Regions from separate parts of the Homo sapiens genome. Here regions 2, 3 and 4 are each linked to region 1. Evidence: fine-mapped expression QTL. A gene starts in region 1. Each other region holds a variant in brackets. All regions are shown on one strand. Distances are between the middles of the regions. Region 1 holds the start of BCAT1 (branched chain amino acid transaminase 1). Region 2 holds the start of LOC124902898. Region 3 overlaps BCAT1 (branched chain amino acid transaminase 1). Region 4 overlaps BCAT1 (branched chain amino acid transaminase 1).

Region 1 (7,509 bases):
ATTTTTTACTATGAGAAATAGAGAAAGAGAATGACATTGTTTTCTGAGTGTGTAGAGTAGAATTTTAGAGTAGATTTTCCTCTTTTAAGACAGAGTATCATTGCCTTATGTAAACTCTCCTATTCAAATTCCAGGAACTGTTAATAACTCAAGGCAGAGAATATTTGTGAGTTTCTGCTTTCCTAGAGAAAATTTAGTAAGATACAGGGAAGACATTCTGCAGGTAGTTGGCACATATTTTTCATAATGATGGCAATAAAAGCCTTTGTTAATAACAGTGAGGACAAAATGAAGCTGGACTGTCTGGCGCTCTGGAGTCAACCTCAAAATTAGTGTCTATTAGAAATCTTAGAAATGCTGTCTCTTCTTCAGTAAAAGACACTGCCCATAGATGGGTATATGGTATATATCCAGTTTGGATCCAGTTTTCCTTAAATATCTTTTACTGTGACTTGTTTGAAGTACAGTGCCACTGTCAGAGTAACAACCTTCGTTGATCATGAGCCTCATCATTTGGGAAAAGCATGTGTGTTGTCTGGGAGAGAAGCTTTGGGAGTTTACAGTTGACAATGAGGGAGAACTGTGGGGCCCTTCTATCAACACTAAAGGGAAATGGGAGGAGAGACATAGCTAGATTGTTCTTATATTCTTTTTTTTTCTTTTTTTTTTTTTTTTTTTGGAGATGATGTCTCACTCTGTCACCCAGGCTGGAGTGCAGTGAAGTATGAAGTGATCACAGCTCACTGCAGCCTGGATCTCCTGGGCTCCAGTGATCCTTCCACCTCAGCCTTGGGAGTAGCTTAGACTGCAGGCACATACCACCACAAACAGCTAATTTTTGCATTTTTTGTAAAGACTGGCTTTTGCTATGTTGCCCAGGCTGGTCTTGAACTCCTGCTTTGACGTCCCAAAGTGCTGGGATTATAGGCGTGAACGCCCGGCCCTCATATTCTTCTGTGGATGTTAATTCCCTAACTTTCTCACTTCCCTTCAAGCTCTTTTTTTTTTTTTTTTTTTAAATATATACTACCTTCTCTCTTCCTTTGTTGCTAACATCAAAAGAATCCTTAAGTAGGGGTAACAGCAACAGGGTTGGAGGTGAAACTGTACCTTCAAGCCAAAAACAGCCTGAAGGCTGAAAGACCAGACTGCTGGTCCTGGATGAAATCCATGACGCAGAGTGAGAATTTCTGTTCCTGTTTGCCTGCCCCTCCCCTATTCTGAGCCGATAAAAAGCCCCAGGACTCAGCCTCATGGAGGAGACTTTCCTGCCTTCGGGTAGGGGGACCACCCCCGCTTCCCTCTCTGCTGAAAGCTGTTTCATCCCTCAGTAAAACTCCCCGCCTTGCTCACTCTTCAATTGTCAGCACATCTTCATTTTTCTTGGGCATGGGGCAAGAACTCAGGAACCAATGTGCAAGGCAAACTTGTCTCAGGCGGGCAAATTGCGTGGGGTGCCTCCTGCAGCAGGTAGTATGCCCCGAGCTAGGCCTCCGGCATTGCCGGCTAGAGGTCCTTGACTGGCAAAGGGACTGAGAAAAATCCTGCATTGAGGGAGAGGGGGGCGAGGGGCGGTCGTTGGATCTAGGAGTAATTGCCAGGCTTGCTCTAGAACTTATTAATGCATTTATATCTATGACCCCATCACTCTCTATCCCCTTATTACTCTTTCTCATAAAATTTACCACATGGTACCTGTTTTTTTTTTTTTTTTTTTTTTTTTGAGACTGAGTCTTGCTCTATTGCCCAGGCTGGAATGCAGTGGCATGATCTTGGCTCACAGCAACCTCTCTGCCTCCCAGGTTCAAGCGATTCTTGTGACTCAGCCTTGTGAGTAGCTGGGATTACAGGCACCCCGCAACCACGCCCGGCTAATTTTTAGTAGAGACGGGGTTTCACCATGTTGGCCAGGCTGGTCTCGAACTCCCGACCTCAAGTGATCTGTCTGCCTCAGCCTCCCAAAGTGCTGAGATTACAGGTGTGAGCCACCATGCCGGGCCATAGAGTAACATCTTTATTGAGATATAATTCACATAACATACAATTCACCTATTTAAAGGGTATAATTCAGTGGTTTTTAGTGTGTTCACAGGGTTGTGTAACCATTACCACAATCTAATTTGAGAACATTTTAATCAATTCAAAAAGAAATCCAACGCCCATGAACATTCACTCTGCATTCCACCCTGTCCCCAGATTGAAAACAACTATGTGTTTTCTGTCTCTATGGATTTTCCTGTTCTGCACATTTCAGATAAGTGGAATCATATAATATGTAGTCATTTGTGAGACGCTTCTTTCACTTTGCATAGTTTTCAAGGTTCATCCATGTGACTGCATGTAATCAGTACTTCATTTCTTTTTATTGCAGAATATAATAATATTCCATTGTATGGATGATACCATGTTTTATTTAGCCATTCCTCAGTTGATAAACATTTTGCTACCTGATTTAAAGCTTACTTTCTGTTTCTCACACTAGTATATGAGCTTAATGAGGGTAAGAACATTTTTGTTGTTTCCCACTCAGTCCCTAGCATTTTGCACATTGCCTGTCTCATGTCAGTGTCAGGTTCAAATCTATCTAGCTGTGCTTTCACTGACGGGGGCCAGGAGGTTTCACAAGGACTCAATGGCTGATTAAATGCTTACAGATACAGATTTCTCAGGGCAGAACTTCTGCAAGCATTTTGGCTGTGGTCAGTTACTTTCAGGTTTTCATTACTTTTTGGTTTTCACAGCATCCGCAAGTGCCCATAGCCATTATCTCAGCTGCCTCTCTCTTTACTCTCTTGCCAATGGTGCCAGGCCACAGCAGGTGTTATCTTATCACCTCAGTCCACCATACATATGCTTATCAATTTGAGGGGTCAGCAATTTCACTGGAGGCTGAAACCCTTGTCATAAATGGCTCCATTTTGAGACATTTCAGATTACAAACCACTGTTATATACCAGCCTAGCATGTAGAAATCACTCAGTACATTTATTGAACACATAATTTAACCATTCATTCACCTGACCAACAGTCATTAAGCACTGACACATTTGTTTTCAACACTCCCTCTCTTCCACGGCAGGCCACTTGGTATGGGAGATAAATATGACAAAGGATCTGCCCTTACGAATCTCATAATCCACTGAAGTGACAACTGTGCAAACAAATAATTAAAGTAAAATTAAGAAGCTGGGCACAGTCTCACATCTGTAATCCCAGCAATTTGGGAGGCGGAGGCGAGGGGATTGCTGAGGCCAGGAGTTCAAGACCAGCTTGGCCAATTTAGTGAGACCCCATCTCCATTAAAAAATGATAAAATAAAATAATTGATTTTGAGAAAGGATGTGGACAAAGTGCAGCACATAGACCAAGGGCCCAGTTCTGTTTGAGGGCATTGGAAGCAACTTCCACAGCAAAGACTTGGGTTGAAATTTACAAAAATAGGAGTTTGCCAGCTTGACAGAGAGGCAGCGGAGGTCAACCAGCAGCACACTTAAGCAGTCATGGAGGCTGACCTAGGCGCTGGACATGGAAAAGTAGCAATCCTGGAGCTTTGTATAGATGTGGGGAGGGAACTTACAGGGGACCAACTAGGCTACTGGGCAATTTCACATTATAAAGAATTTTATATGCTCAAATTAAAGGATTAAAAATTTTCCCCCATGTACATAATAAATTGGCAAAAATGGTTATATTTGAGGGTGACTAAGGAACTCTGGGAAAGAGATCGGCAAACCAGGCACATGTTCTTGACTACTGCAAAAGTACATTTAAAGTAGCCGCGGGGGATACATGTATACTTTTGGGCAGGATTGTGCCGTGGTCCTCTCAGCATGCAGCAAAGTTACTTTGGGGACAGTAGGGAGGTGGGCAGGAGCCAGTGATGACGGAATGGCAATCACATTTGACCTCTGATCTGTTTATTTCCTCCTCCTTGACGTCTCCATATAAATGTTACACGGGCATCCCCACACTCGGATACGCACCCACAGTGGCTGATTCGGGGGTAACCGTGTCATTTGCTTGCAACACTGGCACCTCTGCCCTGCACCCCGGGAGTGAGCAGTGAGTGAGGCTCGGGTCTGGGCGCTGGCTCCGAATCTTCGGGCTGGGAGAGACTCCACCATCTGGGGGCGGCCTGGGGGAGCAGCCTTAGTGTCTTCCTGCTGATGCAATCCGCTAGGTCGCGAGTCTCCGCCGCGAGAGGGCCGGTCTGCAATCCAGCCCGCCACGTGTACTCGCCGCCGCCTCGGGCACTGCCCCAGGTCTTGCTGCAGCCGGGACCGCGCTCTGCAGCCGCAGACCCGGTCCACACGGCCAGGGGCTACGACCCTTGGGATCTGCCCTCCGCTCAGCTCGAGCTTCCCTCGTGGCCGACGGAACAATGAAGGTAACTACTTATGGTTTTGTCCGTGTTTTACAAAAATGTGTGCGTGAATCGAACCGGCGATTTCTCCAAGAAACATAGTTGGCAGGGAGGGGAGGAAGGCGAGACAACCATGGCTTATATCCCCCGCAAACGTCTCAGTATCTTCTTTATCAATCGTAGTTTGCGGGGACCGTGCATTCTGTTCAGATTTCGGTTTAACCTCCACTCGCAGGACGTGCCTTCTCGGACTTTTTCACATTCGCTTTTGGGAACGGAGGTGAAAGTCTGCTACAGCTCCCTCCCCTGCTTGTGAAGTTTGGAAAGGAAGTGAGGGCTTCTCTCAGTTTCTCCTATGCACAGGAGGTGGGGAATTTTGGAGAGGAGGTCTGGGGATGTCCCGGGCTGTAAATGCGCTTTCCTGCAGCGTGTGTTCGTGATGCAGGAGGGAGCGGCTGGAAGAGTTGACCCGGGTGGAGAGGGGAGGGAGAACGATCTTTTCACTGTTAAAAGCAGAAGGCCCCTCTTATTTTGTTTCTTGTGGAAATTAAAGCTTCTAGGAGTTACAAATGATAGACGCCTAAGGGCATTCATTTGTTAAACCAGTGAGCACCCTAATGGCTCTGATCTTGCTAATCAAGGATAATTAGCCTAGCTGCCTATTATTTCTGACTATTTAGGTGTAGGGATGTACACCGTTGAGTGTTTTGTTTTCCTAGTTTCACACACTGGAAAACTGCAATCGCATATAAAACCCGAAGAGCAACTTTTTCCAAGGAAAGTGAAGGATGGGCAGATATTCTTGCCATCTAACATTTTGGAATTGAGATGACCATAATGCAATCTGAACTTCTGGTAGGAATAAAGCCTCGTTTCAGAGTTTCTAAGGAGGGAGATGAAGCGTGGTTCTCAACTGCTCTTATCTACAACCCATCCCAGACCATAGTTTCACTTAGAAGAAATAATATGTAAATAGCGCCTTTGTTGCCAAACAAAAACTTTCACTACAATTAAACAGTAACCGAGTGGAAACTATGCGTTTTTGTATTCAACAGAGATCACACAACTTTTCTTCTATAGTTAGAGGTTCTATTTCTGGCTTCCTCATGCTTGTTTCATTTCAGATGAAAAACACACTTTAGTTGATTATAGCTTTAGTAAGTAAAAGGAGAAAACTAAGAATGAACAGTCTTGCTTTTCCAGCTTTTTCCTGTCCATGTGCAGTTGTGGTTAATTACGCGTTTTTGTAGGTCCAAAAACCCCTGTCCCTTCCACAAGATACTTTTATAACATGGGGAACTAGGTAAGATATCTACAAGTAGTCTCTTTTCTGTTTCCTGATATTTCCTAAGATTAAGAAAGAAATGATTGTATTCTAGGTATGATCGAAGAAGTATGGAAGGTTCCATTAAGTTAGTTTTATCACAATATTTCAAACATCTTTCCACTTATCTCTTAAATATGTATTGCTATCACAAGCTTGATTTTTTAAAAAAATGTTATTTGCACATGGCATCTTGATTGCCTTTGTCCTCAGCAAATTCTCCGGGCTTAAGTCATGCATGAGCTTGTATTTTAAGACAGACACATGCAGAATGGGCAACTTGGATAAGAAACATAGGATATACACTGAGTAGCATGTGTACAAAAATGGTAAGTGAGTATTATGACTTAATAAATTTAGATGGGGATTTAAAAATGATACACATGTAAATGGGATTGGAGGCAAGGGAAGTCCGTGTGTGTGTGTGTGTGTGTGTGTGTGTGTGTGTGTGTGTGTGTGGAGGGAAGACGGGAGGCCTAGTGGGGAGAGAGGTTTTACATTCCAGACACAGGATGTGGCCCCTCAGGCTAGGCTCAGAGATGTAAAGCTAGTTAAGCTGGCCTAACAAAAGGGTGGTGGTTAGAAAAAGGAAAAAAAGAGGTGGGGGTTGGGGAGGAAAAGAATTTAATGCTGGCCAATATTTTCATCTGATAAGTTTCAGTAATGAGTAATTTCACTGGATTTCAGAACTACAGAGAGAAAAGGGGAAAAATATTTTTCCTTTTTTACGCAAGAATTTCTCTTGCTTTTCAGCTCATTAGAACCAGATCTAATTATTTGAAATGAGTTTAAAACCTTATTATGAAAGGAAGTTGAAAACATTCGATCACAATTGAGTTTTGTACTATGGACTAAAACCAAGATGTGCTTTCTGTCAGTAGCTGTGCAACTCCCTGAAAAAAGAAAAATAGCGCAGAGCGATCTGAGCTTTGTGAAGGCTACACAATTTATCAGGCCCAGAGAGATAGGAGTGTGAGACTTCAGTCACGTCCCCCCGTACGCATGCGCAGGAGTAATTATTTAAAGACATTTTGTTCCTGACTAACTGCCTCACTCATTATGTTCCTGGAATTTGTGATACAAAAAAACAATGTTTAGCCTATCAATAGTTTATATAGTTTATGTTATTTTAATATAAATTCTTCTCAACTTAGAAACTGCCTCTTTTTTCTTTTAAAAACCCACTTGTAACTGCTGTATATATTCAGGGCAACTTGATTTGGTGTTTCGTTGGTTGCAGTCCTCAAATTTGACCTCAATATACTCTCTACTTATATAAATTTTGTCTCAGTTTTGTCCGTAGGCTGACATTCCAATTGTTTTCCTAATTATATATTTTGTTCCTTATTTCTCATGTCTAGAAATAAAGCTAGGGAAGTAAACAGCTGGAAAACTGATAGTGGTGTTATTAACCTAACTGAGAGGGCTGGGCTTATGAGTAAATTATTCCTGTGCATAAATGAAAGATTGTTTCTAAATGGCAGCTATGTTGAGCCTTTGTATTAGTTACATCTTTTGGGGTTTCAGGTTGCCAGCTTCTTTAAATGGCCTCTTCTCAACTGGTATAGGAAGTTGGAAAATAAAGAACTTTCTTTATTTCCCTTTAGTGTTGGTAACCACAGTTTCTTTAAATAACAGATGCCCACCCCAGGGAAACCCAGTGGCATGATCAGCCTTATGCTCAGGAAGGTTTGGTTGCTATACTGGAGAGTGAGAATCTGGGACCTTCCATGATAGACATAATTGTGCCAGCTATCCTCTACTTTCTATATGATGCTATCATTCTTTTTTCTTTTCTTTTTTTTGACAGAATCTCACTGTG
Region 2 (7,509 bases), 45 kb after region 1:
CACCCTCCTAAAGTGGGGGGATTACAGGTGTGAGCCACCATGCCCGGCCCAGCTATTTACATTTAAATATAAATTAAAATGAAACAAGATTAAAAATTCGGTTTCTCAATCACACTAACCACACTTGAAGTGCTCAGTAGCTACATGTGGCTTAGTGGCTACCTGGCAGATATAGAACGTTTCCATCAGCACAGAAAGTTCTACTGGAAAGCATTGATCCAATCTCTTTGAACAGTCACAATGCATATAAAGTCCTTATTATGACTGTACAAGGGAAGACAACGAGTAGAGGAAGGCAGAAAATAGGAAAAAAGGAAGAAGAAAGATTTAGGGTGAGGGAGAGCAGTTCTATGAAGAAAAGAAGCTCATATCTAGGAGTGGAGTGGACCCTGAGAACATGTTAGTCTATTATATTCTAAACTTTGGCAGTTAAAATTCCAAAGTATATTAAGTACATGCTTTCTAAAATATTAGAGAGCTGCAGTTCAACAGATTTTTAACTCTCCACAGCATGTCCGGCACTGGGTGAGGTGGGATGGCTAGGTGAATAATATAGGCATTGTCATGTGTGTTCGTGTGAAGAGACCACCAAACAGGCTTTGTGTGAGCAATAAAGCTTTTTAATCACCTGGGTACAGGCGGGCCGAGTCTGAAAAGAGAGTCAGCAAAGGGTGGTGGGATTATAATTAGTTCTTAGAGGTTTGGGATAGGCGGTGGAGTAGGAACAATTTTTTGTGGGCAGGGGATGGATCTTACAAAGTACATTCTCAAGGGCGAGGAGAATATTACAAAGTACCTTAAGGGCAGGGAAGGATATTACAAAGTACCTTCTCAAGGGTGGGGAGGGTGTATCATACAAAGTGCATTCACAAGGGTGGGGAAATATCACAAAGTACATTATCGCAAGGGCAGGGAGGGTGTATTGTCACAAAGTCAATTGATCGGTTAGGGTGGGGCAGGAACAAATCACAACAGTGGAATGTCATCAGTTAAGGCAGGAACCTGCTATTTTCACTTTTGTTGATCTTCAGTTGCTTCAGGCCATCTGGATGTATACGTGCAGGTCACAGGGGATATGATGGATTAGCTTGGGCTCAGAGGCCTGACAGACATGAACTTCCCATCATAAAATTAGAAGAGCATTAATCAAATGATTAGAATAAAATATTACCATTATTTTGAAATGGCAAGCATTGTATGTAAATAAACAGCAGAGGAACCCACTGTAGCCTAGACAGGGTTCAGAGACGTTCCTGCCAAGGACATGGCACAGGGACTGAACAAGGAAGGATGACAGTGCCTGGCAAAGGCAGGGAATGTTACAGGTATTTGGGCACCTGTGAGAAGGCCTGATGTCCGAAAGGACTGAAATAAATTAAATGTGTGGGGGGAGAGAGAAAGAAAGAGCCTAGCAAAAGGTGAGCTGGAGAGTCAGAGGCAGAAGGCAGAATCTGGGATGGGCTGGGAGCTTGCCAATCATTTTGTCAAATGGGTGATGTGAAGCCTTGAAGGTTTTTTGACCAAGAGGAGATGTCTTCAGATTTGCGTTTGAGACATTTTCACTGGTTGTCATGCTAAGAATGGCTTAAAGAGAAGCAAGGCTGGGGTCAGAGGAGCTGCTTGGAAGCTGTTTGGTACTAGGATGCGGATAACATGGTTGGAGAAATGGCAACTGTCAGGGTATTTGGAGCAAGAATGGATAGACATTGGTGATCATCACTTGGATGCATTTGAGGGACAACTGCTATGTTTCTACTAGAGCAACTACATAGAGCAGGAGTAAGCAACTTACAGTCCACAGACCACATTTGCTCTGTCCCGTTTTTCAAATACAGTTTAATGGAAACAGAGCCATGCCCGTTCTTTCACCTATTCTGCATGGCTGACATCAGGCATGGTTCTAAGTAATATACATAAGTTTCATATATTAATGCTCATCTATCCCAGTTGACAAACATGAAGTGTTGCTATTGTCTCATTTTACAGCGGAGAAAACTGACATAGAGATTCTCTTTCGCACCCATAGCTTCAGTTACCACCTCTATGCCAATGATTCAATAATACCTCTAATCCAGACCTCTTCTCTGAGCTTCAGACAGGCAGATCTCTCACAGCCAGTCTTGGAGACACTTCAGAAATCATAGGTCCCAAACCAGACTCCTCCTCATCCCCTCAAACACATTCTTTTTCAACATTCCTTTTTTCTTAGTGAACATCACCAAATAGATAAGCAAGTCAGATCCAAGGAGGCCTCCTTGGCACTTCTCTCATCCTTGTCCCACCTTATATCATCTATTTTTCTTTTTCTTTTTTTTTGAGATGGTGTCTCACTGTGTCACCCAGGCAAGTGCAGTGGTGTGATCCTGGCCCACTGCAGCCTCAACCTCACCAAGTTCAGGTAATCCTCTCACCTTAATCCCGTGAGTAGCTGGGACTACAGGCACATGCCACCGAGCCCGGCTAATTTTTGTATTTTTACCAGAGACAGGGTTTTGCCATGTTGCCCAGGCTGCCACCTTATCTCCATTCTTGCTGAAATCTGGCTGTTTCTCTCCACTTCTATTACCAACCACCAGCCAAATCTGACTTATTAAAAGGATCATCTCGTATGTGGGTTCTGTAATAGCTTCTTCAAAATCCATTCCTCTCCACCCAGACCCTCTTCCAATCTCCAAACTGCAGCCAATACCTTCAATTCTGTCACCGCTCCTGCATACTCCACCTAATCCTTAACCTTTCAATGGTTTCTCTTGCCCCTAGGTTAAGCTAAATTGAAAACTGCTAAAGCTACAGCTTCTTAGTGTAACTAGTAAGTACAGTGACTACTATGTCTGGTTTACTTCAGCTGTTGCTGACTAATAGCACTTCTTGAATGAAGAAATTATATTACCGTACTGTAGGGAAAAATTTGTACTTCAATGGAAAACTGAATTATTTAGAGCAAACCTTTAAGGTTATCTGATTCTGATTCCATGGGCCCTTTCATTGGGTCTTACATTGTTTCATTGTTTTTGAGTTATTTTACAGATGACTGATAGAAATGCAAAATAATTATTGCATGCAGTCATGCAAGTAAAATCTGAAGGTCAGGGTTCAATTAACTTCTCTCCCCTACTGTGGAAGAAGCCAATTTCATTTGCATATTCATTTCAATATTTCTGACCTATAAACATGCCTGTTCTTTGAACCAGTTTTTATATCTGCCTGGTAACTTCATTAAATGATTTAAATAAACTCTATAATTTAGTTTATTTTATACCTGTATGACAGTCAGGCTTTTACCTTATTTTTGCTTTTTAAAATTATTCTTTAGCTCTCCCTAAGGCACTACTTGGCTGGCCCTTTGGCTACTCACTAGCCCAAGCTCCATCCTCTTCTGTCTACCGCAGCCCCAGGCTCTCTTTTGGCCCTTTGTTCCAGCCCTCCTCAGAGAAGTTCTTTTGTCCTGGAACTCACTTTCATACCAGGTGCTCTTCATCCCTTCTTCCTTTAGTAAATTTCTTTAATCTTTCAGATTTCTGCTCAAGGATCACTTGCTGAAAGCCTTTCCAGGCCTTTCTGAGTCAATACAATCCATTATTAGAGGCTCTTAGAGCACAGGCAGCACTTGTTATAATTTTACATCTGTCTGTGGGATTCCTTAACACTTTCTAACACAATTAACACTTTTCTCTCTGGCTGGGGGCAATGCATGATAACAGGATGATGGTATGCTCTCAACCCTCCCCCAGCAACTAGCCCAGTGCTTCGAACATGGTGGATAGATACACCGTTTTTATTTTAGACAGATTTTTGAGTAGCAAGTACCTACTGCTCAGGAGACAGATGGACTGAAAAAATATATTTGGGAGTCATCAGCACATAGGTGCAGCCATGAAAATGCACGAGAAGCAAAACCATTGGCAGGAACAAAATGAAGGCTATTAGAGACCTTATTTAGGTGGAATAATTGGACAGAAGCCCTTAATGGGGAGGAAATAGAAGCAGTTAATACAGATGGAGGCCGGGCGCCGTGGCTCACGCCTGTAATCCTAGCACTTTGGGAGGCTGAGATAGGTGGGTGGCTTGAGTCCAGGAGTTTGAGAGCAGCCTGGGCAACATAGCAAAACCCGGTCTCTACAAAAAATACAAAAATTAGCCCGGCGTGGTGGCGCAGGCCTGTAGTCCCGGCTACTGGGGAGGCTGAGATGGGAGAATTGCTTGAACCGGGGAGGCGGATGTTGCAATTAGACGAGATCGCGCCACTGCACTCCAGCCTGGGCGACAGAGCGAGACTCCGTCTCAAAACAACAAGGACAAAACTTATCTTATAAGCGACCCTGGACTTCCAGGGACACTCGCCGCTCTATGGTGGTACGTGACCTGCCTGGACTCTGTGGTCTTTGGAGCTTGGGACCCCACCCCAGCGTAAGAGGCCTTTCTGTGCCTTGTATAAAGGAGAGGAAAAGTGTAGGTTTTCTGAGTTGATAAGATTAGAGCTACAGTATATTATCAGTAGCGTTGTATGAAACCATTTAAAAAACCAAACCGGATTTAACCGCTTTCACCCAGAATAAACTGCCCTCCCCCTCTTTCCAAGATCAAGTCAGCCCCAGTTACCACTTCCTATTAATTTAAAAACCAGGAAGGCTCATAATTTAGGCTGACGTTGCCCCAGGCGAACACTGCATATAAGACAATAGCTATTCCAATCCTCCTTTCCCTTTCTAAACCGAATAGTACTTCTAACATCACTTTTCCAGTCCTCTTTCTAAATATTGCGATCACGAGCCTACATCGGAAAACTATGAAAACAGTATGATTGGAGCTCTTGATGGTCTGCTTTGCCTGAAAACGATGAAAGGCATTGAGATCTTTGGGCAGAAATGGCCCTTAGGGAATGCGAGCCTGGTAGCCCCATAACACCCCGAGTTACAAATTCGGTTTGGGTAGGTGGCGCAGGGAAATCTAAAAGCTGGATTCACGTTCTCCCCCTTCAGTTTGCACATAGCGGTCAGTGGCAGACAAGAGCAGACGCACAAATGTCAATCCCCGCCCGCAAACTCTCGAGGGCAGAAACTGCTTTTTGTCAGTTGGATTTGGAGTCGGTGGAAAAGCTGCCCTAATGTAGTTTCTCCGAGGTTTCCTTAGCCTTGACCGAGGGGCGCTTCCCGGCCATTCACCTAGAGGTTGTTTAATAAACAAGGATGCTCGCGAAATATCTGCGCTTGGAAAGGCGCTCGTTCGTGGCGCGCATTCTCGGGCCTCCGCAAGCGACCCCGGTGACAGGGACAACCGCTTCGGTTTTAGCGACTGCAGACAGACTGGGACGAGACGGTTGGAGGCTCCTCCCCAAGGGATGCTGGAGGGGTTGCGTCGTACCCTGCGCCTGG[C/A]CCTGGCGCGCGGCCCCAGGTCGTGGTACCCAGCGCCCTATGGGCCGTGCGCCGGGGCTTGGCCACACCGCCTGCTTTCGCTTCCAGCCGCGCGCTCCGTGCCACTGCCGCTCTCTGCAGCCCCGCGTCCCCGCAGCCTCCCCATGGCCAGCCCGCTTCGCTCCGCTGCGGCCCTTGCCCGCCAGGTACCTCGAACCCGGGCGTTTGCGGAAGGGGGGAGGATTGGAACCCGGGTCTCGGTAGCTCGCGGGCCTGGCCGGGCGCCTTGTCGCCGTTTCCTGCACCATCCTCCTTCGCCTTGCCCTCCATTCCGCCTCCAGCGAGGCGTCTTCCCTTCCCCGCATCCCTGCCCGAAATCTGGAGTCCCAGCCTGCAATCTCCACCTCTTCGAGGTTCCCGCTGCCCAGGTCTAGCACCCTCATGGGTAACCCGCTCCGGAGCGTGGCGAGGACCGCCACGGGGGACGTGAGGGTAGCTATGGACTCGCTCTGAGGGAGGAGGCGGGAGCTGAATCTCTGGGCTGCCAGAACCCACAGCCACATCCTACGTGACTCTGCCACCCCAAAATATTTTGACCGCAGCCTTCTGCCTCCTTGGATCTCTTCCTTCCCCACCCCCACCCCCGTAGTTATTTAGCAGATTACGCATTAAAACAAATGTCTGCAGGTTTTCCCAATTAGTCCCGCTTCCCTGTGTCTTTATCTTTTAAATTGCCCACTAATACCATGAGGTTTAAGGTGTGGGGTGGATGCTGCGGCATCGGAGGACCCTGCTGGTGGAGGAAATGGTTCACGCCCGTCCCCGTTCCCTTTGCAGGCTTGCTATTGTGCGTCTGTGATTGACAAGACCACGAGGCTGAGCGCGCCCTGGAGATTTTTCTATAAATGGCTTAACACCCCAGTCTAGACTATTTGCTCGGATATAAGGGAGACAATTGTTTTTTTGTTCTTTGCCGGCGAACCCTGGCTCTGTAGGGCTGACCTGGAATTTAACCAGTCTTCCCTGAGCCGGCGGAGGAGGACAAAAACCGCCGCGACCCCGGCAGGGTGGGAAGTGCAGGGCAGCGCTCCCAAGACACGCTTGTTGGAGGTTCGGGCCTGGGTGCTTGGTTGTCTGAGCCTCCTTTTTTGTGTTTGCCTGGGTCCTGGAGAGGAGCGCACGGTATCATGGTGAGCGTCACGTAGGTTACCCCGGGTCCCGCTTACCCACCTGCATTTACTTAATGGTGGTTTAATTCTTCTTTAAGGATTGCAGTAACGGATGCTCCGCAGAGTGTACCGGAGAAGGAGGATCAAAAGAGGTGGTGGGGACTTTTAAGGTAAGTTGCTTGCCAGAGGCTTAGTGTCTAAAGCAACGTTCAACTGAATAAATCCATTTCTTGTTGAGATTCGGGGAAATTTTCACTGTGTGGGTTACCCAGTTCCTAGGTTGTGTTGCCAGACTTTTAAAATTCCACTCTTAGAGGAAAAAAAGCCATTTAGAGAGTGACAGTACATTCATCACAACAAAAATTATCTAGCAGCTAATTGCTGATTTTATTTTGAGTCATATATTTTTCTTGAAAAATAGTCAATGCGTAAATATTAAACTAGTTGTTTATCAGATTCCATAATACGTACAAACCTTCAGTCTACTTGTAGAAAAAGTTAAACTGTGATTTTTCTCTTTCAGTAGCACATAACACTCTACAGTGAAAGTGTTGCATTTTCTTCTTTTCTATCTGAATTGCGGGGTTTATATAGTAAATAGCTCATACTTCAAACAGTGAGAAACAAAGCACGTTGAAAACTGTACAAATACAAATGTAAGATGTAATATTATTTTTTCTATAAGTCTATCTCCTACCCTCCCTCCTCGTGGAGGTTTTAGCTTCTTCTTTTTATGCCTAGTGCTGCTCTTCTGCCTGTTTGAGTCACTGTCAATTGTCATCAGACAATTGACACAGAGTGTCCTAATGATCTCACATCCTGGCGGTTCAGAGAGGGAAGGAAACTTGACTCATCAGTTTCTCACACATTGAGCTCTCTCACAGTGTGCTGGAGACTGTGCCATGCATTGGACATCCAAAGGTGAATTCAAGATTAGGTCTCTACTTGCAAGGAATTTTTATTTTATTTTTCTTTTTCCTTCTCTTGCT
Region 3 (7,509 bases), 54 kb after region 1:
GGCTGAGTAGTATTCCATTGTGTATATGCACCACATTTTATTTGTTCATTGATGGACACTTAGGTGATTCCATGTCTTGACTATTGTGAATAGTGCTGTAATAAACATGGGACTGCAGATATCCCTTTGATATACTGATTTCCTTTCCTTTGGAAAATACCCAGTAGTAGGATTGTTGGTTTATATGGTCATTCTACTTTTAGTTTTTTTTTTGGAAAGCTTCATACCATTTTCCACAGTAGATAAACTAATTTACATTCTTACCAACAGTGTATAAGCGTTCTCTTTTCTCTGTATCCTCATCAGCATCTGTTATTTTTTGTCTTTCTAATAATAACCATTCTAACTGTGGTTGCTTTTGACATATTTCTCTACCTTTTTGTTAATCTACATCATTTATAACATTTCATATGGCCTTTTGGGTCTCTCTTGGGTAGTTTTCGTATTTCTTCTCCCCTCCCCATTTATGATGCAGTCATATTACATGAGGATGCAGTTTTGCAGCAGGGCCTAGCAATGAGATACGTTGTTACACATCCTGGCGAATCTTTCTGTGGACTCTAGGATCCTCTTCATTTGCAAGAGGTCAGCCATCTATTTCTTCCAATTCCTCCAGCTTCACATATCTCCACAGAATGCAACACTGCAAATCTGCAGTTCTCTTCATGATCCTCTTTATTAGATTTTAAAAGAGTATCTCCAAAAGATGAACATAGTGCCTAAGGCTTTCCAAATGGAGTAAGAATAATGCACAAGAACCTAGAATAAAGTTATTAAATGTCTGATACAGTTGTAATACAGACTTGATTTTTGAAAAATGTGGCCAATGAAGAGAAGAGCAAATGTGCTATACGATGGTGAGCAAAAGGTGTTGACAGGCCTGGCATGGTGACTCACCCCTGTAATCCCAGCACTTTGGGAGGCTGAGGTGGGTGGATCATTTGAGGTCAGGAGTTTGAGACTAGCCTGGCCAACATGGTGAAACCCTGTTTGTATTAAAAATACAAAAATTAGCCAGGTGCGATGACACATGCCTGTAATCCCAGCTACCTGGGAGGCTGAGGCTTGAGACTTGCTTGAACCGGGGAGGCGGAGGTTGCAGCGAGCCGAGATTGTGCCACTGCACTCCAGCCTGGGCAACAGAGCAAAAAAAAAAAAAAAAAAAAAAAAAAGTGTTGACTGAACCCTGGCTGAAACAGTTTTCAGGTGCTTTCAACAAATTTACACTTCCCTGCCCTGAGCCTCCCTATTTCAGAACAAATGATTACCCAACTGCAAACTTTGAATTAGGAAGTTGTTTTTAATATGCCCTGTTTTTCTCAATATTTCTTGCCATTTCACAATCAGTTATTGTGGCATTCCAATTCTTCCACAAACATATGATGTGAAACATCCTGACTTCGATGTCATCAGGGAATGTGGAGCATTGGAAAGAGACAGATTAATTATGCAGAAGAAAGTATCATTTGACAAAATATTATTTTTATTTATCTTTGGAAAGGAAATCTAGAAAAAGAAAATACTTTTTAAAGAACACTGATAAAAATTGTTTATAAAATTTGTTTCCTTTAGGAAACAAATCGTTCCCTTAAAACTACATTTCATATCTGCCCCAAACGAGTCACATGTCTTCAGCTAATATTGCTTGTTTACGTTTGAACTTTATTCAATTCTATCACCTAGTAATTTAGTATTCTTAGGTAATTTCTCTTTGAGCTCAGGTTAAAAGTTGTTATTTTTAGTTTTCAGAGTTGCAGAATTTTTTTTTCAAGTAGAGAAAAGTTCATGATGAGATTCTGAAGCCACCTAATCGTATATTACTTTGAAAAACTGGATATATGCCGGGCGCGGTAGCTCACACCTGTAATCCCAGCACTTTCAGAGGCCGAGGTGGGTGGGTCACCTGAGGTCAGGAGTTCGAGACCAGCCTGGTCAACATGGTGAAACCCCATCTCTACCAAAAATACAAAACTTAGCCGGGTGTTGTGGCACATGCCTGTAGTCCCAGCTACTCAGGAGGCTGAAGCAGGAGAATCACTTGAACCTGGGAGGCGGAGGTTGCAGTGAGCCCAGATCACATCACTGCTCTTCCGCCTGGGTGACAGAGTGAGACTCCATCTAAAAGAAAAAGCAAAACAAAACAAAACTGGATA[C/T]AGGGCAGTGCTTAGGTACAAATCAGAAAGTTAGAGGTTGCTATTCATATCATTAAGAAATAATGTGTCTTACGAAAGAATGTAGCAGTTTACTGAAATAGAAGTCATACCTAGAAATGTAATAATTTATCTTTAATTGTCAGAAATTTAACTGATATTATGAAGTTCTAATTATAAGAACACTTATTTGAGGTTAAAAATTACCTTATTCTATCCCTGCTTTGCCGCTAATTTGATCTCTCTGGATTAGTGGGTTATTGTGGGTCCTATGGGTATTTTAAGGAGAGGTCTCAGAAAACTAAAAATTATATATACTGGATCATAATCATTCTTGTCACCCACTCTCATCTTTCTGTTTTTGTTTTGTGTTTTACTACCCTTCCCCTTTTACTAAGTAGTCTTAGTAGAAGAAAATTTGCATTAAGTTTGTCGTACTGTATTGATATGGCTCCAAATGTTTCTTAGCCCAGGGTCCTCCCCATTCACTGATAAAAGCTAACTAAGGTAAATCACAGGTGTTTATTGTGCAAGAATACTGTGAAACTATTCATGTAATAAAAAGTTTGTGTTAGAATTTCACTCTCTTTAAATCCTGGACATCTTCTGTGAGTGTATCTGAAAGCAGCCAGACATCTTCAGTATTTAAGAAACCCTTTACTATTCTGTGTGCTAGGCACTGTGTTAGCTTTGGAATTCAACTGTGAATACTCTAGCCAGACTTCTTGTCTAAATAGTCCAGAATAGGGGTTGCTAAACTTTCTTTCTTTTTTTTTGAGATGGAGTTCCACTCTTATTGCCCAGGCTGGAGTGCACTGGTGTGTCTCTGCTGACTGCAACCTCTGCCTCCCAGGTTCAAGCAGTTCTCCTGCCTCAGCCTCCCAAGTAGCTGGGATTACAGGCGCCCACCACTACACTCAGTTAATTTTTGTATTTTTAGTAGAGACAGGGTTGTGCTGTTTGCCAGGTTGATCTCAAACTCCTGACCTTTGGTGATCCACCCGCCTCGGCCTCCCAAAGTGTTGGGATTCAGGGTGTGCCACTGTGCCCGGCCTGCTAAACTTTCTTAAATGGCTAGATGATAAATATTTTAGGCTTGAGGGCCATCAGGTTTCTGTTACAACTAGTTGGCTGTGCTGCCACTGAAGATACAAGAATGGCGTGACTATGTTCCAATAACATTTTAATTTCAAAACAGGCCAGCTGGCTGCATTTGGTCTGCAAGTAAAGTCTGCCTGACCCCCTACCTAGTCCAGAGGACAACGGGAGAGAAAAGGGATTCAAAGATAAAAATAATTTAGCTGGAATATATTTCTTTAAATAAACTTATTATACTTAGTAAAAAGTCTTAAATTAACGTTTTTACTTGAATTAAATAGTGGTAAAACAGGCTGGGCACAGTGGCTCATGCCTGTAATCTTAGAACTTTGGGAGGTCGAGGCAGGCAGATTGCTTAAGCCCAGGAGTTCGAGACCAGCCTGGGCAACATAGTGAGTCCCTATCTCTAAAAAAAATACAAAATAATAATAATAATGGTAGAACAAAGTCAATTTTTTATTGAAACTTGGCATTTTATTGGCATATTACAAAGTAGCATTACTAGACTAGCCTGAACATTACAGTAATATTCTGTCCTTAATGCCTTTTGTGTCACTGTAATATGAGCTTTCTGTTTGTTTTGGAATATGTTTTCAGCCTGAATATTATTCTAAAAATACAATTTACTATCATTCATAATATATCAAATGACTCACGTAGCTGCAAGGCAGTGAATTAAACAGAATTAGATCATTTTAAAAATAATGATAAGAGCTGATGATGTAAAGTGAAGGTCTGTATTTAATTTGGGAGGGAAAAGACTTTTTTTGTATATTCAAAGAGATGGAGTTTGACATCCCTTCACAACCTGTTACAGGTTGAACTTGCCCCTGTTTTTTTAACTGATCAAAAAGTTCCTTCTCTTGTGTTTCTTTTTTTCTTCTCTTTTCTCTTCTTTTCTTTTCTTTTTTTTTTTTCTGAGACAGAGTCTTGCTCTGTCTCCCAGGCTGGAGTGCAGTGGTGCGATCTTGACTCTCTGCAACCTCCGCCTCCCGGGTTCAAGTGATTTTCCTGCCTCAGCCTCCTGAGTAGCTGCGACTACAGGTGCATGCCACCACGCCTGGCTAATTTTTAGTATTTTTAGTAGAGACGGGGTTTCACCATGTTAGCTAGGATGGTCTCAATCTCCAAACCTTGTGATCTGCATGCCTCGGCTTCCCAAAGTGCTGGTCTCCTGTGTTTTTGTCAGCATTCCACAGATGCTATAAAGTTAGTGGTGGTATCGCATGCAATTTGTACGCTTAATGTTTGGCCATTTGCAGTGGGCAAACTGGCTATGTCGGGAGCTGGTGAGATGCTGCTTGTGGGGAGTTGTTTCCTATTACTCTGATTTATCTTTGTTTAAATAAGAGTTCCTTTGTTCACTGTTTCCTCCACACAGAACAGAGGATTTATATCTTAGTGTTCATTCTCAACTTTCCTGTTTTCAAAGAGGAAAACATTTGCTTCACTTTGCTCATTTCTTCTCCAGTGCACCCAGAGGATTTTGAAGGCTTATGCCAACAATTCTTTGGGGCAGTTGGAGTGTAACCATTGCTAAATAGCAGTTCAGTACTTAATGACATTCATTTTAGTTTAACAAATCATTGTGAGTGTTGCCATTTTTTATTAGGGAAAACATCTCTTTCATCTTTCCCAAATACTCAACATGAGTCCTATGGTGAGAGTGAAAAAGGGTTGTATTCTTTTTTTGCATCATCTTACCCCATCTGCTATTTTGTCCCTCTTCTATATATCACTGAAATTTGGTTCTGATATTCTATTAGGCAGTGTACATTGCAGAGATTATGAATAACTGGCCGAATTCTGAATGCAGGCATGATTTGTTCAGCTCAGAGTGTTAAATTTCTGTGTTAGCTGCTAACCTTTAAAAGTCAATTGATTTCCTTTTTTTTTTTCCCCTCTGTATAATCTAGCCAGCGAATGCTCAGTAGCTTTTCTGTAAATAGTGATGATTTTTCTTCCCCAGGCTAAAGACCTAATAGTCACACCAGCTACCATTTTAAAGGAAAAACCAGACCCCAATAATCTGGTTTTTGGAACTGTGTTCACGGATCATATGCTGACGGTGGAGTGGTCCTCAGAGTTTGGATGGGAGAAACCTCATATCAAGCCTCTTCAGAACCTGTCATTGCACCCTGGCTCATCAGCTTTGCACTATGCAGTGGAAGTAAGTACATGGGAATTAAAGAGAGTGACATGCTTGCACTTCACTGTGGGTACTAAGTAGCTTCTCCTGCTAAAATAGCTCTTGGGCAGTATGGGCTTTATCATATTTACCAGAGGAAGCCGAAAATGTCTTTAAAAGTTTTCCTATAGACAGTTGGATTGAAGATAAATCTTAGCAGCTAATTTTTCAGATAATCTTGCATTTTCTGTGACGTCAATAAAAAAATTATTTAAAGCAAATAGAAAGGACAGCTGGTGGGAAAATTGGCAATTAAAAAGCCAGCACTGTTGATAATTTAATAAGTCACCTTTCTTCTTAGATCTTCTAATAATTGAGAAAGGGTCATTGAGAACAATATTATGATTTGATTTTAATGCTAACTCCACATTTTTATGACCAGTAATAATGTCTAGTTATGCATGTTAAGGGACATGTAATTAAATGTCCTCCTTCAGCCATGAGTTGAAATAATTTTAAGCATAAAATGTTTAAAGAATTCTTTCTCTGGTCCTTTTCAGGGTGCACAATTAACCAGATGCACAGTATACTTCCCATTGTCTTGATTCTCATTGTATTTTACTTTTGAATGATTTGGACATCTTTCCCAGAATAATAGGGGTGCTGGAAATAATAATAGTCTTCCTATTAAGTGCTAAAATATGGTAATAGTAAAATATTAATAGATTAATGATAAAATAACAACTTTTGTTTACTGAATTCCTGCAATACGTTCTGTATTATGTTCCATATATGAATCATCTCATTTAATTACCTTAAGTGAGAAGGCATGTGATTAAGCATTCAGGCTTTGAAGTCAGACATCCTGGGCTCAAATTCGGTCTCATTTGCTCCATAGGAACCTTTATGACTTGAGGAATTTAATCATTTGTGCTTTAATTTCTTTATCTATAAAATTGGGGTAGTTATAATATCTATCTTACAGTGATCTCATAAGTATAAAATAAAGTAATTTATCTAAGCATATAGAGTCATATCTGGTGCATAGCGAGAGCCCAGTTGTTAGCAATAATAATTAACTCTTGAAGCAGTGGTCTCATCCATTATAAAAGGAGGCTCAGAAGAGTTGTTTCTTGACTAATATTACACAGCAGTAAGGGTGGAGCTAAGGTTCCAATGAGAAGCTTCTTTCTGTTATATAGCCCCTACATGTATACACCAAAATTACTAGGATGCTTTTGCAATTAACTCCTTCAAAATTATAAATTCATATAATTTTGGAAAGATATTCACTGTCCATATGTATCCACAAAATGTTGAATTTAGGAATCTAAGTTTCTGTTCCCAGCTCTTCCTGTTATGTCAATTTGAATGAGTTCTTTCATTATTTGCCACAAGCCCTCACCATGTCATAAGGTATAATAAAGAACAGGTGAAATGAAGTGCTTTTATTTATTTATTTTTCAGACAGATTCTTGCTCTGTCACCCAGGCTGGAGTGCAGTGGCACGATCGTGGCTCACTGCAGCCTCAAACTCCTGGGCTCAAGCAAACCTCGTACCTCAGCCTCCTGAGTAGCTGGGACCACAGACACATGTCACCATGTCTGGCTAATTTTTACATATTTTGTTGAGACTGGGTTTTGCCATGTTGCCCAGGCTGGTCTCAAACTCCTGGGCTCAAGCAATCCTCTTGCCTTGGCTTCTTCAAGTGCTGGGATGACAGCCATGAGCCACTGCTCCTGGCTATGTGCTTTTAAATTTGAAAGGAATAATATGCCCAAGCCCAGGTCACTGGTTCTCAAACTTAATGTGCATCAGAATCAGCTGGCTACATCTCCAGAGTTTCTCATTTCTAACAAGTGTCCAGATCATGTTAATTTTGTCGCTCCAGGGACCACATTTTGGGAATTGCTGGCCTATGGGAAGTAAATGAGAAATGATTTAATGTCATTTTTGGAAGTTAAAAAAGATTTTGGTGGTCACTGGTTTTTGAAAACTCTTTGAAGGCTGGGTGGGGTGGTTCACATCTGTAATTTCAGCAGTTTCGGGGAGATGGGGTTCTTGGGAAATGAGCCCTCCACCCATGGGATCTGATGCTATTTCCACGTAGATAATGTCAGAGTCGTTCAAAC
Region 4 (7,509 bases), 78 kb after region 1:
TTTTTTTTTTTGGTCCTGTCTTGCTTTTGGCTGACTTCTATATGTTTTTATTTCATGTCCTTTTCATAGTTAGATTAACTGGGTCTTATGTCCAAGAGATATTTTGATTTCTTTGAATGAATAAATCTATGTTAGGCTACTGTATTAGGTTTTATAGACACCTAGTTGATCACTTGTGTCCAGTCTCTATTCCCTGGTATGGTAGTTGCTGTGTTTATAGAACATTGAGGATTCTACAATGGACACATTGGTGTTGGGCCCCAGCCCAGACCCAAATCGAAATTTCTAGAGCCAGGATCAGAGACTCTGCATTCAACAAACTCTCCAGAGATTTCATAACCACTTTTAAAGGACTCACCATCCCAAACCTTGTTAAGGAATGAAATATATGTCTGCCAGTAATTTCAGTGCTTTAAGTCATTGAAAGCTGAACTTTTAATGGCACCAAAGTGGAAATATTTATATAATTGAAAGCTAAACTTCATCCTAATGGCAGTGTTGAGTTCACTTCCATAGGCCCTGATATAACAGTCTAATATTATTGTTTTTCACATAAAATAAGATTCAGTCACTGCCATATAATTAGGGAGTGGCTCTGCTATTGGATGGACTTAAAATATTTCATTATGTTTGCCAAGCTCTGTCTCTTTACATGTTTTATAATTAACTGATCCTTCATTTTTATTTTGTTTTATTTTATTTTTGAGATAGAGTCTCGCTTGGTTGCCCAGGCTGGAGTGCAATGGTGCAATCTTGGCTCATTGCAACCTCTGCTTCCCAGGTTCAAGTGATTCTCCTGCCTCAGCCTCCTGATTAGCGGGGACTACAGGTGCGTGCCACCATGCCCAGCTAATTTTTGTACTTTTAGTAGAGACGGGGTTTCACCATGTTGGCCAGGCTGGTCCCAAACTCCTGACCTCAGGTGTTCTGCCCACCTCGGCCTCCCAAAGTGCTGGATTACAGGCATGAGCCACCATGCCCGGCCTCCTTCATTTTTAATAATCTTCATAGATACATACTTGTTGTACTAATGTTTTTGTGCAGTTCCTCATGATAAATAATTAAATCAATTACTAAAATCCTTATAGATTTATGATGATAATAAATGGAAGTGTGTATTATTGAAACATGTTTAATTAACTGTTCATATATAACCAGTGAGTAGGGATTGGCAATTAAAAATACCAGGCTACCAGTGCATGGAAATTTGAAGAAAACAACAACCTGAAATTCAGAATACTCCAAAATCTGAAACTTTTTGAGCACTGACATGACTAAAAATGCTCATTGGAGCATTTCAGATTTCATTTTTTCAGATTAGGGATGCTGAATTGGTAAGCATAATGCAGATTAATCCAAAATCTGAAAAAAATCCTAAATCAAAAACAGTTTTGGTCAGAAGCTTTGTGGATAAGGGATAGTCCAAGCTTTTTGGACTGAAGCTTTTTGGATAAGGTATAGCCTATAATACATAAATACATAATACAGGATAATCACTGACCTGAATGTATAGCATCAGTATGGTACACAAATATTTAAATCCATGTACTTTGTTGGATATTATGTTATATAAACTTCTTGTAAAAAGTTTAGAGAGTAAAATCATTCACATTACCAAAAGATTTCTCATATTTATAAAAAGGATTATAGCAGCATTTTAATCAGTATCTCCTAAAGTATTTATTTATGGGTTGTTAAATCTAAAAGAGAAACTACAGTCTGGAGGGCTCTAAACTACTGCTGATTACATATCAGTTGGGAATTAAGAGAAAATCTCAGATCATAATATTTAAATAAAAACATTTACATGAATGATTTCTAAGTTTTCACTTTACTAGACAAGAAACTAAAATTATATGACTGTCATGTTCAATATTGGATACTTAACAACACTACATCCAAGGAAGCCAGGTTTTGCTGATTTTAACCTCGTCCTGTTGAGTAACTCCATGCAGGTACAGTGGTACAAACACATGTGGACACACAGACCCAGACCTTTATTTCCTCGGGGATTCTGGTAAGTGTAGAGGTGTCTTGACCATAGTCAATAGCAGAAATATGCACAACCACAAGCTCTGAAATTCCATTTGATTGTTGCTCTTAGCCTTCCACTTTTTAGGCATATGTCAGTCCCATTTCATCCCACCCACTCTCTCCATTTGGGAGGTGGTAGAGTGAGACAATACTGAACTATACCAGGGCTGAGAATAAGTGTCTTTGAAAAGGGTCGAATCTGTGATGCTAGAGACAGCCCTGGAAACTGTCAGGAGTTAGCCCAACCAGGACTGTGACCAGATCCCAGGCTGTCCACCACAGATTTGCAGGCTACCTGCAGATGTGACTTTTTCAAATGTACTCAAAGACAAGCTGACTTTGGCTAATGCAGAAATTAATTAATTCCTCTTTTTCAGTAAACTTTATCCTCCTACACTTAGATTGTCTGTAAGTACATCTCTGGAGTTGAGCTCAACTAGAAAGAAGCTGTCTGCATTTAGTTAATACCAGCATTGGATGCACACAATATAATTTGAATAATGTAGAGCAACATTTTAATCATCTCTCATAAGCAGTTTCCCCATTTGCAACTTCCTGGGAAATCTTACATTATGAAATGTTCATTAGAACTCCCATTTTAAAACCCTGCTGCCATTTTGTGAGTGGGCAGAAGAAAGGCTGGAGATGAGATTTGTCTGTCTCAAATGATTCACTCCTTCATTTCTGGTTCACTCCACAGGGAGCTTAAGGACATGTGCGTTTCATAGACATGCCTTTCTTTTCCTTTTATCACCTTGTTAAATCTTAAGATTGAACATACAATTCAGCCTGTAATCATATCAATTCCCATGAAAAATATTTTCCTTATTCACTGCCTCTATTTGTGCTTATACATCTGATCATCTTTTTCCTTTACTTTACAATTAGTTTCTATGAACAGAAGAATCTGAAAGATTTAAAGACTAGTTAGCACAGCAGCAATTTATAAATCATTAATTTGGGTACTGTCTATACATTTAATGTGTTCTTTTTCATAGTCCTATGTGAAATACATATACATATATATATATTCCACTGTTTATAAACAATATTCAGTTTTATTTGCATAACTCAATATATTTTATATTAACAGCTCCGTTTTTAGTGTCTTAAGACATCGAGTCTGTTTTTAGAGATACAGTCTATTTGCCTTGATTTTAGCCTGTTATAATCAGCTTATTATTATCTGGCCACTCTTACCAGTGAGTATCATCTTGAGGCTGTTCTTGCTCATTTCAACTTGTCACAGGGGATGTTTTTTACTCTTTGGAGTTTAGGTACACCAGGTTATTAATTATGCTCCTGATTCATGGTACTTCCATCATGGGGCATATAAGGTCCCTGTCTTTGTTTTATTCCCTTCTATCTTCATTCACCACTCTCATTTCCTCTCTCTCCACTAGAAATAATTCTCAGGAATCAAATTAATATTATTCTGGCTTATATGTGTTTTTAAAAATCTCATCGCTTTTTATACATGTAATTTTAATTTATGTAAGAGACTTTGTCCTACAGATTTCATTGTGTTTCTTCTCTTTTTCGCCCAGCACTGTGTGTTCCATTTCTATCCAGTCTACTATGTGTACATCAAGTCCATCATTTCTAACTGTTGCATAGTTCATGATGCGAGGCATCTTCCACATTGTATCCCAATTCCCTAACTGGAATCCCAGTTCCCTGCTACCTCACACAATGCTCCAGTGAACAGCTGGAAAATCATACAACCCAAGGAATTATTGAAAGTGATTATATCCCAGCAAAAGGCC[C/T]AGGCCCATCTTACACTTCCACCCCAAGAAGGTACTGCTACTTTTCGGGAATGGCCTGGTCTCCTTGGCGAAATTGGCATTTGATCTGTTCTCATCACTGTCGTCTGGCATCAGAAGTGACCCCACTTGTCAGGCACTGTACTCAGTGCTTTCCATGCACTAACTCTGATAACAATCTTTTTTTTTTCTTTTTTTGAGACAGAGTCTTGCTCTGTTGCCCAGGCTGGAGTGCAGTTGTGTGATCTCAGCTCACTGCAACCTCCACCTCCCAAATTCAAGCGATTCTCCTGCCTCAGCCTCCCCAGTAGCTGGGACTACAGGCGTGCACCACTACACCTGGCTAATTTTTGTATTTTTAGTAGAGATGGGGTTTCACCATGTTGGCCAGGCTGGTCTTGAAATCCTGACCTCAGGTGATCCACTTGACCTCCCAAAGTGCTGGAATTGCAGGCAAGAGCCACTGAGCTTGGCCTGATAACAATCTTGTGAGCAGGTGCTTATGCAGTATTTTAGGGATGTGAAAGTAAGGTCCAAAGCGGTGAAATAAGAGCCTGTATTCTCTTAACCTCCATCCCGCAACATCTTTTATGTGTCAGTCCCTGCACTAAGTCTAGGGATACTGTGCTGAGCAAAAACTATCTTCTTGCTTTCACAGAGCTCAGTGTCTGGCAGGGGGTCAGACTTTCATAATATAAACCCACTAAATGAGTGCATATTGATGGCGGTCACTGCTGTGAAGAAGTGGGAATGGTTAGCATGGAAACATAGCCCCAATGGGGGCGACTAAGTTCTTTCCCATCTCATTCTACTATGTCTACTTTCATCTCTACTTTTTTCTTTTCTGAGCTATCAGCTTTCTTGCTCTCAACTATATTTGATGTATTTAACCAGATTTTATATATTGTATTATGTATTTTATAACATGTATATATATCATATAACATACACATATACATACATACACACAGCCAATTAAGTCTCAAGTTCAATTACAATGCTTCTAAGTTTAGGACTATTCATTTTCATTTTGGCAGAGAAATTATCTGGTAAAAAATTCAAGTAGAACCAAAGGTATACAATAGATGGGAAGTTTCCTTTTCACTCTCACACTCTCATTTCCATCCAGGGTTCTACAATTCATCTCCTTCCAAGCAATTCCTATTGCCAGCTTTTCTTATACCCTTTCAGAAATACACACACACACACACACACATATATACACACACACACACACACCCTTACATGTGTTTGTACATTATCTCTCTTTTTACAAAATTGGCAGTGATTCTTTGTCCTGTTTCTGCCACTACTCAAAAATTTTAAAACAAATTACACACCTATAAACATACAATTTAAAGAAAAGAGTGAAAGTGAAAATCTAAGGACCCAGCACATGGTTAAGATGAGAGCATGATGGGTTCAATGGAAAGCCTTTGTGTACCTTTCTCCTTTGCCTCCGTTCCCTCTCCAATAGAGTCAACCACGTTGGAGGTTATAGCACTTCCTTCTTTATGTCCCCCCATCTCCCATCTGGTATGGTATTCTCTTTTACTGCAGATGGACATTTTGGCAGACATATGTAGTTGCTTCTCTTTGGTATTTACCTAGGAGTTGAAGTGCTGGGTCACAGGGTGTATGTATATTTCACTTTAGTAGATACTGCTGTTGTAGGACTTTCTCCTTAGTTTAGCTAAAGATGGGGTCCTTGTCCCAAGGCCATGAAAAATTAGGCTCGCAGACAATTTGAAAGGTGAGAATAATGGAACTTATTGGGAAAAAAGGGAAACAGGGACTCCCCACAAAGCCAGGGTCCTGCTAGCATGCTTCCTGCCTTGCAGATTGAATCCCAGGTACCACCCAGGAAGAGGAGGGGCCAGGCTCCTCCCCACTGTGAATGGTGTGACCGTCTGTGGCTCCCCAGTGTGCACTCCTCCCAGTGTGCAGGCCGGTTGGAGTTTCTCTGGGGTCTTCTTCCCACTTGGCTGTCTCACTGCCAAACTCCCAAAGTGCTTATACCAGTTTACTCTCCCATCAGTGGTGTATGTATTTGCTTCATTTCTTTGCCAATACTGATACTGTCTTATTAACTTTCCTCATTCTAATGTATACAGTCTTGTGTTATTTGTGGTTTAATTTCCCTGAGAACCAATTATGTTGAGTACCTTTTCATAGGTTTACCAGCTACAGAAGTCCTCTTGTGAAGTGCCTTTGCAAGTCTTTTGTCTTTTTAATTTTTTGCATCTTTGTATATTCTAGGTATAAATCCTTTGATACATATATCACAAATAACTTCCTAGTCTATGGCAAATCCTATGTTGGATAAACGTACTGCAAATAGTTTCCCAGTCTGTGGCTAGCTTCTGTGTCTGTGTCTTGCTTTGTCACTTTCTTACTGATATCTTTTGATGAACAGAAGTACTTAGTTTTAAAGTAGTTAAAGTTTTCTTTATGTTTTATACTTTTTATGCATTTTAAAGAAATTTTTTGTTACTCCAAGGTCATACAGGTTAAATAAATTCTTACTCCAAGAACATTCTTTTAAAGTTTTGCTTTTTTTCATTTAAATGAAATCCATATGAAAGTGAACTTTGTTATCAAGTAACATATACAATTTCTTTTATTTTTCTGCACGGAGACCAAGTTGTCCCATCACCATTTATTGAGTGGTCTATCCTTTCCTCACTGATTACAGTGCCAGTTTTGATATGTCATGTTTCCATAGATGAAGAATATTTTGGGGCTCTCTATCTGTACCTTCCTTTTTAAAAAATATAAATAGTGGTGATACTATGAACAATTTTGTTTGTATTATTGTTTTTTGCACTTAAAATTTGTCTTGGAGATCTTTTCATTTTGGCACATACGGATACACCCCTATTTTTTTTTCCATTTTCCTAGATGTGGGGTATCCATTGGACATATGTACCGTACTGAATTTAATATAGAATGTCATAAATTACAAGATGTAACATTATTTTATACACTGAGATGGAGAATCAAACTGCAACGCAGTACTTCCCTGATCATCCTGAGTGATTCATGAGTTAGTTATACTAGCCTCTTATTTCTTTGAGGTGTACGTTTTCTGAGGGAATCTGCCATTTCTCCTGCCATGAGTTGCATTGCTTGGCTCGTGATAGGCATTTTTATTTTTGCATGTAATTTTGTAACAAATGCTAACACTGCTTTATCTTCTTTTTGTTTTTGTTTATTGAGACGGAGTCTTGCTCTGTTTCCCAGGCTGGAGTGCAGTGGTGCAATCTCGGCTCACTGCAACCTCTGTCTCCCAGGTTCAAGCGATTCTCCTGCCTCAGCCTCCTGAGTAGCTGGGATTACAGGCATGTGCCACCATGCTCGGCTACTTTTTGTATTTTTTGTAGAGATGGGGTTTCACCATGTTGGTCAGGCTTGTCTTGAACTCCTGACCTCAGGTGATCTGCCCCACTCAGCCTCCCAAAGTGCTGGGATTACAGGTGTGAGCCACCAGCCAGCTTTATCTTTTTAAAGGTTTCTTCCTATTGTGGGTTTCATTAGAGGGCTTGGTTGTTGCTTTGCAAGAAAACATTGACTTGCTTTTGTTTAATAGTCTTATAAATATTTGTTTCACTAACATCAAATACATGCCATGCTCCTGCTTTTGAGCTTTTCTGTGCAGTAACTTTTCTTCTCAGTGCTAAATCATAAGTTTTTAAAGACATTTAACATGGCA

The links.
Region 2: its variant is fine-mapped to the expression of BCAT1 in whole blood (INTERVAL, PIP above 0.99).
Region 3: its variant is fine-mapped to the expression of BCAT1 in whole blood (TOPMed, PIP 0.97).
Region 4: its variant is fine-mapped to the expression of BCAT1 in whole blood (TOPMed, PIP 0.97).

The regions. Positions count from the first base shown.
Region 1 is chr12:24,945,805-24,953,313 of GRCh38, reverse strand. It overlaps BCAT1 (branched chain amino acid transaminase 1), which reads left to right and starts at 4,213. Exons shown (of 11, transcript NM_005504.7): 1 at 4,213-4,387. The coding sequence starts at 4,382. BCAT1-DT (BCAT1 divergent transcript) reads right to left here and starts at 4,151. Exons shown (of 3, transcript NR_199054.1): 1 at 3,984-4,151. RefSeq lists enhancers at 960-1,029, 1,410-1,479, 3,760-3,849, 3,970-4,319.
Region 2 is chr12:24,900,995-24,908,503 of GRCh38, reverse strand. It overlaps BCAT1 (branched chain amino acid transaminase 1), which reads left to right. Exons shown (of 11, transcript NM_005504.7): 2 at 6,619-6,690. It overlaps LOC124902898, which reads right to left and starts at 6,534. Exons shown (of 1, transcript XM_047429951.1): 1 at 599-6,534. The coding sequence starts at 5,914. The coding sequence ends at 5,174. RefSeq lists enhancers at 3,257-3,979, 5,474-5,975. The variant C/A (reference allele first, on the strand shown) is at 5,373.
Region 3 is chr12:24,892,184-24,899,692 of GRCh38, reverse strand. It overlaps BCAT1 (branched chain amino acid transaminase 1), which reads left to right. Exons shown (of 11, transcript NM_005504.7): 3 at 5,218-5,418. Among named protein-coding and RNA genes, the nearest start is that of BCAT1, 53 kb to the left of the region's middle. The variant C/T (reference allele first, on the strand shown) is at 2,154.
Region 4 is chr12:24,867,509-24,875,017 of GRCh38, reverse strand. The region is part of intron 5 of BCAT1 (branched chain amino acid transaminase 1); the gene reads left to right. Among named protein-coding and RNA genes, the nearest start is that of BCAT1-AS1, 51 kb to the right of the region's middle. The variant C/T (reference allele first, on the strand shown) is at 3,801.